Homo sapiens: one gene and its partner. The protein of the gene in region 1 purifies or fractionates together with the protein of each later gene. This does not show direct contact. Each region holds a gene or a part of one and is shown on either strand. Other genes may lie near its edges.

Region 1 (7,797 bases):
TTTGCAAGATGTGAAATCTACAAAATTAATCACAAAGCCAAAACACCAGATTTTGGAAACAGTGGAGTTGACAGGGTTTCAAATTGTAAAAACTATGTTAATCCCAGGGCCATCCCTTCAAATCGTAAAATCTGAGGAGTTAGCACCAGGACCAATTCCTCAGGTTGTAGAACCAATAGGAGTAGCCCTAGAATCAGGAATTGAAGCAATAAATTGTGTGGATTTACTTCCAAGGCCACATCTTCAAGAACTGATAGTACCTGCAGAATTAACTCCAAGTCCATGTACTCAAGTGAAGTCTGCAGAATTAACCTCACCGCAAACATCTCCATTTGAGGAACATACAATATTGACTCATAAACAAGGGCTTCAGGCTGTGAAATCTACAGTGATAAAAACAGAGCCTCCTAAAGTTATGGAAACTGAGGATTTGAATCTAGGACACGTGTGTCAGAATAGGGACTGTCAGAAGTTAACATCAGAAGAGTTACAAGTAGGGACTGACTTCTCTAGGTTCCTACAAAGCTCTTCAACCACACTCATTTCAAGCTCTGTCAGAACAGCATCTGAATTAGGAGGACTTTGGGATTCTGGGATACAGGAAGTATCCAGAGCTTTGGATATAAAAAACCCTGGGACAGATATTTTGCAGCCTGAAGAGACCTATATAGACCCTACTATGATACAATCTTTAACTTTTCCTTTGGCCCTTCATAATCAAAGCTCCGATAAGACAGCTAACATTGTGGAAAACCCATGTCCTGAGATTCTAGGAGTGGATGTAATATCTAAAGAGACAACTAAGAGGAAGCAAATGGAGGAGCTAGAGAACTCACTTCAGAGACATCTACCACAAAGCTGGAGATCACGATCTAGGACATTCCAGGCAGAATCAGGGGTTCAGAAAGGTCTCATCAAGTCTTTCCCGGGCAGACAACACAATGTCTGGGAGAGTCATGCCTGGAGGCAGCGACTACCAAGAAAATATCTCTCCACTATGCTAATGCTGGGGAATATTTTAGGGACCACTATGGAAAGGAAGCTTTGTTCTCAAACATCTTTAGCAGAAAGAGCCACTGCAGATACCTGTCAATCTATTCAGAATTTATTTGGGATTCCAGCTGAACTGATGGAACCTTCCCAGAGCCTGCCAGAGAAGGGTCCAGTTACTATTTCTCAGCCTTCTGTGGTCAAAAACTATATTCAGAGACATACTTTTTATCATGGTCATAAGAAAAGAATGGCCTTAAGGATATGGACACGTGGCTCCACATCTTCCATAATACAGCAATACTCTGGGACTAGAGTGAGAATAAAGAAGACAAACTCAACGTTCAATGGTATATCCCAAGAAGTCATTCAACATATGCCTGTCTCATGTGCAGGGGGCCAGCTTCCTGTCCTGGTAAAGTCAGAGTCTTCCCTCAGCATATTTTACGATAGAGAAGATCTTGTTCCAATGGAAGAAAGTGAGGACTCACAGAGTGATTCCCAGACAAGGATTTCTGAGTCCCAACACTCCCTCAAGCCAAATTATCTTTCCCAGGCCAAGACTGACTTCTCAGAACAGTTCCAGTTGCTAGAAGATCTGCAGCTAAAAATAGCAGCAAAACTCTTAAGGAGTCAAATACCCCCCGATGTGCCTCCACCTCTAGCTTCAGGTCTAGTCCTAAAATACCCTATCTGCCTACAGTGTGGCCGATGTTCAGGACTTAATTGCCATCATAAATTACAGACCACTTCGGGGCCTTATCTTCTTATCTATCCACAGCTCCACCTTGTACGCACTCCTGAAGGCCATGGTGAGGTTCGGTTGCATCTTGGCTTTAGGCTGAGAATTGGGAAAAGATCCCAAATCTCAAAGTATCGTGAAAGAGATAGACCCGTCATACGGAGAAGCCCTATATCACCATCACAAAGGAAAGCTAAAATCTATACTCAAGCTTCCAAGAGTCCTACTTCCACAATAGATTTGCAGTCTGGGCCTTCCCAGTCCCCTGCTCCTGTACAAGTCTACATCAGGCGAGGACAACGCAGCAGGCCTGACTTAGTAGAAAAGACAAAAACTAGAGCACCTGGGCACTATGAATTCACTCAAGTTCACAACCTACCAGAGAGTGACTCTGAAAGCACTCAGAATGAAAAACGGGCTAAAGTGAGAACCAAAAAGACCTCTGATTCAAAATATCCAATGAAGAGAATCACCAAGCGACTTAGAAAACACAGAAAGTTCTACACAAACAGTAGAACCACAATAGAGAGTCCTTCTAGGGAATTAGCAGCCCATTTAAGAAGGAAGAGGATTGGAGCAACTCAGACAAGTACTGCCTCTTTAAAAAGACAACCTAAGAAACCTTCCCAACCCAAGTTCATGCAACTGCTTTTTCAGAGCCTAAAGCGGGCATTCCAAACAGCACACAGAGTTATAGCTTCTGTTGGGCGGAAGCCTGTGGACGGGACAAGGCCAGACAATTTGTGGGCAAGCAAAAACTATTATCCAAAACAAAATGCCAGGGACTATTGCTTACCAAGCAGTATCAAAAGAGACAAGAGGTCAGCTGACAAGCTAACGCCAGCAGGCTCAACCATTAAGCAGGAGGACATATTGTGGGGAGGAACGGTCCAGTGCAGATCAGCTCAACAGCCAAGAAGAGCTTACTCTTTCCAACCCAGACCTCTTCGACTGCCCAAGCCCACAGATTCCCAAAGTGGTATTGCTTTCCAAACTGCCTCAGTGGGGCAGCCTCTGAGAACTGTTCAAAAGGACAGTAGTAGCAGATCAAAGAAAAACTTCTATAGAAATGAAACCTCCAGCCAGGAGTCTAAGAACTTGTCCACACCAGGAACCAGAGTTCAGGCCCGAGGAAGAATCCTACCTGGTTCCCCTGTGAAGAGAACCTGGCACCGACATCTTAAAGACAAACTCACACACAAGGAGCATAACCACCCCAGCTTCTATAGGGAGAGAACCCCACGCGGTCCTTCTGAGAGAACCCGTCATAACCCCTCTTGGAGAAACCATCGCAGTCCCTCTGAGAGAAGCCAACGCAGTTCCTTGGAGAGAAGACATCACAGTCCCTCTCAGAGGAGCCACTGCAGTCCCTCTAGGAAAAACCATTCCAGTCCTTCTGAGAGAAGCTGGCGCAGTCCGTCTCAGAGAAATCACTGCAGTCCCCCCGAGAGGAGCTGTCACAGTCTCTCTGAAAGGGGCCTTCACAGTCCCTCTCAGAGGAGCCATCGCGGTCCCTCTCAGAGAAGACATCACAGTCCCTCAGAGAGAAGCCATCGCAGTCCCTCAGAGAGAAGCCATCGCAGTTCCTCTGAGAGAAGACATCGCAGTCCCTCCCAGAGGAGCCATCGCGGTCCCTCAGAGAGAAGCCATTGCAGTCCCTCTGAGAGAAGACATCGCAGTCCCTCTCAGAGGAGCCATCGTGGTCCCTCTGAGAGAAGACATCACAGTCCCTCTAAGAGAAGCCATCGCAGTCCCGCTCGGAGGAGCCATCGCAGTCCCTCAGAGAGAAGCCATCACAGTCCCTCTGAGAGAAGCCATCACAGTCCCTCTGAGAGAAGACATCACAGTCCCTCTGAGAGAAGCCATTGCAGTCCCTCTGAGAGAAGCCATTGCAGTCCCTCTGAGAGAAGACATCGCAGTCCCTCTGAGAGAAGACATCACAGTCCCTCAGAGAAAAGCCATCACAGTCCCTCTGAGAGAAGCCATCACAGTCCCTCTGAGAGAAGACGTCACAGTCCCTTGGAGAGGAGCCGTCACAGTCTCTTGGAGAGGAGCCATCGCAGTCCCTCTGAGAGGAGATCTCACAGGTCCTTTGAGAGGAGCCATCGTAGGATTTCTGAGAGAAGTCACAGTCCCTCAGAGAAGAGCCACCTCAGTCCCTTGGAAAGAAGCCGTTGCAGTCCCTCTGAGAGGAGAGGACACAGTTCCTCTGGGAAAACCTGTCACAGTCCCTCTGAGAGAAGCCATCGCAGTCCCTCCGGGATGAGGCAAGGGAGGACCTCTGAGAGGAGCCATCGCAGTTCCTGTGAGAGAACCCGTCACAGTCCCTCTGAGATGAGGCCAGGGAGGCCCTCTGGGAGGAACCATTGCAGTCCCTCTGAGAGGAGCCGACGCAGTCCCCTTAAGGAGGGACTCAAGTACAGTTTCCCTGGAGAGAGGCCCAGCCATAGTTTGTCTAGAGATTTCAAGAATCAAACAACTCTCCTCGGGACCACACATAAAAATCCCAAAGCAGGGCAAGTGTGGAGGCCTGAAGCTACTCGATGAGGCGAGGTCCGCCCCTATTATTCATTGTCCTAAGTCTTCATCGTGCTGCCCTTTCCAGGCTTCTTTCCTGCTCAGCCACTGCCTCCAATTCCTGCGCCCCCAGCGTGGAAAGGCTTCCATTTCTCTCTACCGGGGGGGAGGCGGGTGAGAATGGGTCTGTAATTTCTCTAAGATGAATAAAGGGGCAGTAAATGATCTTCCTGTGCATCTGGACTGAGACCACTGGGCGGGTGGATGGGGAAGGCAGGCTGGAGGGACACGAGGAGTTGTGCAAAGATTCGGAATGAGAGCCAGGGGTTTTGAGGCCCAGCCGAGGCTCCAAGCTCCGCCCCTTCACTCCAGACCCCACCCATAGGTTCCCGGGTCCCGCGTCGCGATCCCAGTGGGGCGGGGTCTCAGAGGAATCGGAGGGTGACTCATCACGTGACTCGCTCCGGCCGCAGCCCCCTCGGAAGCTGCTAGGCGGAAGTAGAAGTTCAGAAGAGGGCTAGGCGGAGCCGAGCCCACATCCGGGAGAGGAGAGCGGAAGTGGCGTTGGTCTGGCCGGAGCCCTTGGGTGAAATTGTTAGGCGTGGAGAGGGAGTGATGTCTTCCAGACTCGGTGCTGTACCCGCCGTGAGTTTCTTGGTTTGACCGTTATGCTTTAGAGGTAGCGCTGTCGAGCCCGGAACACGCGGTCCCTCGCTTTTGTCCCATGCTGAGTTGGTTTTATCAGAGGCCATCGTAGGCCCCACCCTTCTAGATCAGATCACCTGTCCCTTTTTCTTTACCCACGTTCTGCTGCCTGTTCCCCACCTCCTTGGATTTAATTCCTCGCCACATTACCATTAGTTTCTATTCCTTTTACATCCCCAATGTCTCTCATATCCGTTGTCTTTTCTTTTGGCCTCCCTTTTAGAGCCTGGGACAGGGCTTTGAGAATGGGGGAAGACGAAGGCTCTGGTATTGTTACCCGCCTTTGCACTGCTGGAAGATAGGACAGCATATTTTTCCTAAAAGGTGTTGCCTTCTTGTGTTTGAGGTGGTTTCCCCGGGAGAACTTCATTTCTTCTGGGCATAGGGGAATTCGTCTTTTTGTGGTCGAGGTTCAGAGGTCCCTAGCACTCACTCGTGTGCTTGTGATTTGCTAGACTTCGGGACCCACAACCTTTAAGCAGCAGAGGAGCACGAGGATCGTGGGAGCTAAGAAGTAAGTGAGGTTTTCTAAGGTCCTTTTATGATTGTGTCACCAGCGCTGACCAGTAGAACTTCTTCCTGTGATGAAAATGTTCTGTATCTGCATTGTCCAGTATCATAGCCACTAACCCGGTGTGGATTTTGAGCAGTTGAAATGTGGCTAGTGCAACTGAGGGACTGAATTTTAAATTTTATTTGCCAAGTGAGTGAGGTTTTTCTAAGGTTCTTTTGTGATTTTGTGGCCAGCGCTGTCCAGTGGAACTTCTTGTGACGAAAATGTTCTGTATCTGCACTGTCTAGTATCATAGCTACTAGCCCCGTACGCCTTTTGAGCGCTTGAAATGTGGCTAGTGCGACTGAGGGATTGAATTTTAAATTTTATTTAATTTTAACTAACGTTAAATAGCCACCTGTAGCTCGTGGCTATCGGATTGGACAGTGTAGGTCTAAGTCTAGTGTGTGGGAGAAAAACCTAGCTTGCAAAAAAAAAGTACAAATTGTAATAAAAATGGAACCAAAGACTCAGTGGTAATTCTGTATTTCTCCAGACATGAAATTCGTGCTCATAAATACACTGATGAACTTGGGATGGATGATAAAAATGGCCGTAAGAAATCCTTGTATTTTTAAACTACTTGTCTGTAAGACTGGTTTATTATTTAGTACACTGAAGGTGCTTAGTTTTTCCATGGTTAATACAAAAGAAAACATTCTTGTTAACTAGACATTAAATGGATTCATTCATTCAGGTGACATTTACTACATGTTTGCTGTGCGCCAGTTCTGTAGTAGGTTAGGAATACAGGCATGAAAAACAACTAGCAGTCTAGAAGGGGAGATAGGCAAGTAGGTCAACACAGTTCATTGTAATAAGTAAGTATTTTTAAGTAGGAATTTAATTTAGCCTTTGAGGAAGGGGAGTGATAGTTTGGAAGGGAAGGATTATCAGAGCAGGTCACTCCTAAGTAGAAACTTGAAAGTTGAGGAATCATGCAGTTAGTGAGAAGGAGAAAGGTTTTTCAGAACAGAGAACAGCATGTGAACGTGTGGAAAGAGTTAATGGGATAGTAAGTAGTTCTGTATGTCTGGGATAGAGGATGAGGGATTGCAGGGAGAGCGTTTAGAGAGGTTAGTAGGGGCTAGACCATGGAGGACCTGTTACGGCATGCTAAAGTGTTTGGATTTTATCCTGGAAGAGATAATGAGGGAATGACATAGCCAGATATTGGTCTTAGGCCACTCTGGCAGCATTATGAAGGATGGATTTGGAAGGGTACTGGGAAACTGGTTCAGAGGTTATTATGATAACCTAAGAGATGAATAAAGAACATGTAGCCTATGGTGGGAACAATATACAGGGAATACGTAGGGAACAACGTATAGGGAATGTACAGGTGGTGATGATGAGAAGTGAGTAAGAGAAGGAAGATAGGATGTCTATGGGTTTCTGGCTTTGGCCATCAGGTGAATTTTGGAGTAATTCACAGAACTACAAATTTCTGAATGAGGAGCAACATTTGGAACAAAAACAAATAGGTTTGGACCTCAGATGAAGAGCTGGTCTGAAATACAGAATTGGGAATTATCAGCTATAAAAAATAATTGGAAACATGATGTTTTCTTCCACAAGCTGAGAGTTTTAATGAGCTCTTCTAGTTAAAGTGGTTAGAGCAATGTTTCTCAGTATGTACCTTGGTCACCTAGAGATAATTGTTAAAAAATAAGATTATTAGGCCCCCATCCATTAACCAGATTTGGAATCATTGGGTTTAGGGCATAGAAATCTTTACTTTTAACTAGCTTCCTAGGAGATTGTGACATTTGAGAGTCAATGGTGAGAAGTGAGACCAGAGAAGAGTAGAGGAGGAAATCATGGAGAACACTAGCTTTTAAAGATTGGGTAGAATTAAATAAGTTTACAAAGGATACCGAGATGAACTAAAGTACTTTTCTAATGAAATCTAAATATTTGCACATGGAAGAATGAGCTAGGGGCTCTTAAAAATTTTTGGTAGATCAGAAAGGAGTTGAAAATAGGCTAAACTTTTTATGTTTGTGATCAGAAGCTGAGAGTTGCCACACTGGTGGCAACAAATTATAAAATAAATGCAATTATGATAGTCATTGTATCACAACAAAGCTTTTTCTTGTTATATGTATGGAAAGGGAAGTTTGAGCTTAATCTGGTTTTTTTTACAAATAATCAAATGTCCTGGGGTTGATGGGTAGATATTGTAAAATACTTGAGAATTGTTTTTGTTGAGTGCTTTAAAAATAAAACATGAGACCTGGAGGAGGGATTCCCTAACCACCTTGATTTAATCTCCAAGAGTTAATTATGA
Region 2 (3,814 bases), on another chromosome or scaffold:
TTTGACAGAAAAGTCATGGTTCTTCCCTTTGAGAGTCCCCTGGCCATTACCCTTGCAGTGCATGTCCCACAGACCAGGAGGGCCATCTCTTAGGCATGGATCTCTTCACTCTTTGTATTTGTCAGCCATGCCAGGGCACTGGGCCTGTCATGGAGAAGGGCTTGAGGGAACAGTCCAGAAGCTGCCACTGGCTGAGACTTGCTTATGGGCTTTCATCATTCAGCCCTCAGGATGACAGCATAAGGGGGCTGTTTTATTACTGTCATTGCTTTAAGATGAAGTAACAAGGCTCTCAGGGGTTAAGTTCCCAAGAAGCACACAGCTAGTGAGAGCCGGAGCCAGAATCAAGTCCAGGTTTCTCCACTGCAAGGCCATAGGTTTAACTGTTACGTTGTCCTTCCTTTGAGCCAGCAGTTCTCAAGGTTTTGGGTCTTTGAGTTCCTTTATCTCTTAACAATTAAGGTCCCCAAAGGACTTTTGTTGGTTATATCTATGGAAATTTCCCATATTAGAAATGAAAAACTGGCCAGGTGCAGTGGCTCACGCCTGTAATCTCAGCACTTTGGGAGGCCGAGGTAGGAGGATCGCTTGAGCCCAGGTGTTCAAGACCAACCTGCGCAACATAGCAGACCCTGTCTCTGCAAAAAAATTTTAAAAAGAAAATAAATGAAAAACTGAGAAATTTAAAAAAAATTCATTTGTTCACAGTAATAACGGACTCAGTCGTTTTGAAAAATACTCTTTTTCATAAAAATTTTGGTGAGAAGAGTGGCATTGTTTTACATTTACATTTTTGCAAATCTCTTCAATATCTGGCTTAACAGAAGGCAGCCGGATACTAATGTCTGTGTCTTCACTGACACTATTTTGCTGTCATATCTTATACTCTCTGGAAAACTGAATATTTGTGAGAGAATGAAAATGAAAAAAGGCAAATAACTGTTTTCATACTAATCCAAATACATTTTGACCTTGTGGACACCTGAAAGGGTCTTAGGGACCCCAGCAGTCCCTAGACCACTCTTTGAAAATCTTCACTCCAAGCTTCTTATCTGCAGAGTGGTGCATTTGTAAATAACTTAGGCTGGAACCTTCATCAGTTTTCCCTGGGAGTACAATGAGGCCTCCCCTGCCCAGAGCCACTGGAATTGAGGCTTTCACAGCTGATTTGGGGGTTGATGGGGAGGGTGAGATTTTGGCAATCCCCTATTTATTGGTTTCCTTAAAAGCTTATATTTTGGAAACATTCGGGAAGAGGAAACCTTGTGTCTCTAGGAACTATAGATCCCAGAAATCAGGTACTGTCTTCCAGAGTCTCCGTTAGTCACTGTGGCATCTTGAAGGATCCAGCATCGATGCCGGCCTCATTTCCCAGATGCTTTGTGGTGCAGCACAGAAGCCCACTGTCAGTGTGACCTGTCTCTGTTTTGTACAGTATGGCAAATGTAGCACAGGGCCCATGATGGCTTTGGCCTTGAGCACGGTGGCTTTGACTGGAACAAAAGGCCGGGGAGCATGCTTGCTGTGGAGACGGCCTCAGCTCCTCACTCTGCAGAGCTTGGCCTTTCCTGCCATTTGTTTGGCCATTGCTGGTAGTGAGAAGCCTCTCGAGCCCAACAAACCAGTGTTGTGTGGTTGTTCATGTGCTTGATGGCTCTGAGTAAATGTGAAAGCTTGAACTTTGTGAGCTAAAAATACTGGTAGCTATCATTAAGTCCTCTGAGGCCTTTCTTTTTCTTCCTTTGAGAGGTACTTCATTCATATGATGTTAATGGTCTCTGGACTGAACTCTTCACGGTCTCCTTATAGGGAAGTATTTGTTCCCAGAGCAAAATTTAACCTGTAAGTTTCTTAATGGCAGGTGGCCGTTTGCTGAGTGATTCCTATGCCAGGATATCAATGAAGAATCCAGGGGCTGGTCGCAGGGTGTCACCTGAGTTACTGTTGTTTGGGTTTTCTTCTTCTCATATAGGAAAAATAAAATAATAGTAGCACATCAGAAAGTATGGCAGGGTTTTCCTTGGAGTCTCATGCCTTGTATTAAGGACTGTCTTCAGGGTCATTGGGATGAATATGTCTAGTTTCCAGAGTCACTGCAGTGGTGAGAGTGGTGGTGGGGAATCCTTGTGGTGCCTTAGGTCTGTCTTGGGAGAGGGGAGCAGAGTGTACTGCACCCTGAGGAGAACCCGGATTTCAGGTGTTAAGATCGAGATTTGTTCTTCCACAGACTAAGAGCTGGCTCAGGGCAGGAGCTGGTCTGTATGGTGTGTCCCCAGCCCCAGCACAATGCCTGCCCCCTAATAGGTTTGCAGAGAACATTAATGTCCAATTGGGTGGCCTACATCAAGTTTCAGACGGTGGAAACCCTTTTTGACAAAGCAAAGCAAGCTTAAAGCAGTCTCAGATGTTCAGATCTGTACATATTTCATTCTTTCTATTTTTGATTTTTCTCTAGTGACAAGAAAAGGAAGTTAGAGGCCAAACAAGAACCCAAACAGAGCAAGAAGTTGAAGAACAGAGAGACAAAGAACAAAAAAGATATGAAACTGAAGCGGAAGAAATAGTGAAGAGAAACTCGGGCATCTGTGTTTGATCATGGGAAGATACTCTCACTAACTGAACCCTCTCTGGCTGGACTGTTAAAAGCAACGAGAGGCCCCGGCACACCTGGAAGCTGGCCGCGAATTCGGCCTCTGGGCCTGTGTGTCTGTGAGCTCAACCTGGCTAAAGGCAGAGTCACTCCCAAATGGGTCTCTTTAGAACTTGATGGCTGGGCACTGCCATCTCTAGAATTGCCACGAGTCTCTCTCTTCCTGCCCAGTCCAGGGCCCTCCTTTCCTATAAGTTCATATTTTGCTTTGAGCCAGCTTTTTAGTCTCATTCCCACACATGTGGAAGCCACGTTGCCTCTCGACCGCCTGAGGCCCTTAAGTACATCGCTTTCTGGTGGTGCCCAGGAGGCTGCTGCTGGGCCGCTGGGTCTCTCTTTGTGGACTTGTACCTGGAGCAGGAGGAACTCCAGTCCGTCCCGGCATCCATGGCAGCCCGCGGTTAGGTGCGCCAGGGTTTGCTGATGTTGTCTTGTGCTGTTCCACTCTTGGCTCCAGCAGACCCACTGTCCCAGAAAAGCCTGATCCTGTAGTTTATGTAGAATGCCACATCTGCGTCCTCAAGACCTGTTTCATCCATTTGGGAAAAGATGTTGGGAAAGGCCACTTTGCTCGCAGGGGTGAGGGGAAGGATAGAGAATCTATTTTTAATAAATAACATTCTAGAAAGATCAGCTGCCTGTGAGTGTTCTGAAATCCACGCACCTGGACGTTTCTTCTGGTGGGTCTTGGCTGCCTGGTGGAATTTGGAAGGTGTTGGTATCAAGGTCAAAGGTGAGCAGTGTGTCTAGGGCTTCCCAGCCCAGGAGTCTGCGGGAGAAGTGGCAGGTGGCTATGGTCACCTCGAGGGGCTTGGTGTGGTGGCTGGAAGCCAGCTAGAACTGCCTCATTTCCTTCCCAGCTCCTTCCAGGTCACTTGGTCCCTTCCATTTGTTGGGAACAGAGGTAACCTGGTGGCTTTACACATACTTTGGTATGTTTGTTTAATGGTATCCAGGCTAATGAGTCTGCAGCCCCGATATGTTGTCTAGGTTCAGAGAAGGACAGGGAAGGAAACGGTAACTTCTCAGCCTAAGGGTATTTCATATACAGCTCCTAGGACTCGTCCCCACAGGGAGAAGAGCAGGTTCTGTATGCGACCCTAGGGCTGCTGAGGCTTGTCACCGAGGCTGTCAGGACATGAGCCTAGGGGTCTTTCGTTTCTT

What was found. Proteins that work in one complex are often made in the same cells at the same time.
Region 2: the proteins of ZNF512 (region 1) and NAT10 purify together in Homo sapiens (affinity purification with mass spectrometry; 2 studies listed by BioGRID and IntAct, with this or other methods). This does not show direct contact.

What each region holds. Positions count from the first base shown.
Region 1 is NC_000002.12:27,578,249-27,586,045, forward strand, and holds the start of ZNF512 (zinc finger protein 512), read left to right. Parts: upstream 1-4,793; 5' UTR 4,794-4,864; coding exon 4,865-4,894; intron 4,895-5,177; exon of another isoform or gene 5,178-5,278; intron 5,279-5,409; coding exon 5,410-5,468; intron 5,469-7,797. Other genes in the region: SPATA31H1 (spermatogenesis-associated protein 31H1), read left to right, coding at 1-4,279. UniProt on the Homo sapiens protein: May be involved in transcriptional regulation.
Region 2 is NC_000011.10:34,143,629-34,147,442, forward strand, and holds the end of NAT10 (RNA cytidine acetyltransferase), read left to right. Parts: intron 1-2,455; coding exon 2,456-2,564; 3' UTR 2,565-3,280; downstream 3,281-3,814. UniProt on the Homo sapiens protein: RNA cytidine acetyltransferase that catalyzes the formation of N(4)-acetylcytidine (ac4C) modification on mRNAs, 18S rRNA and tRNAs.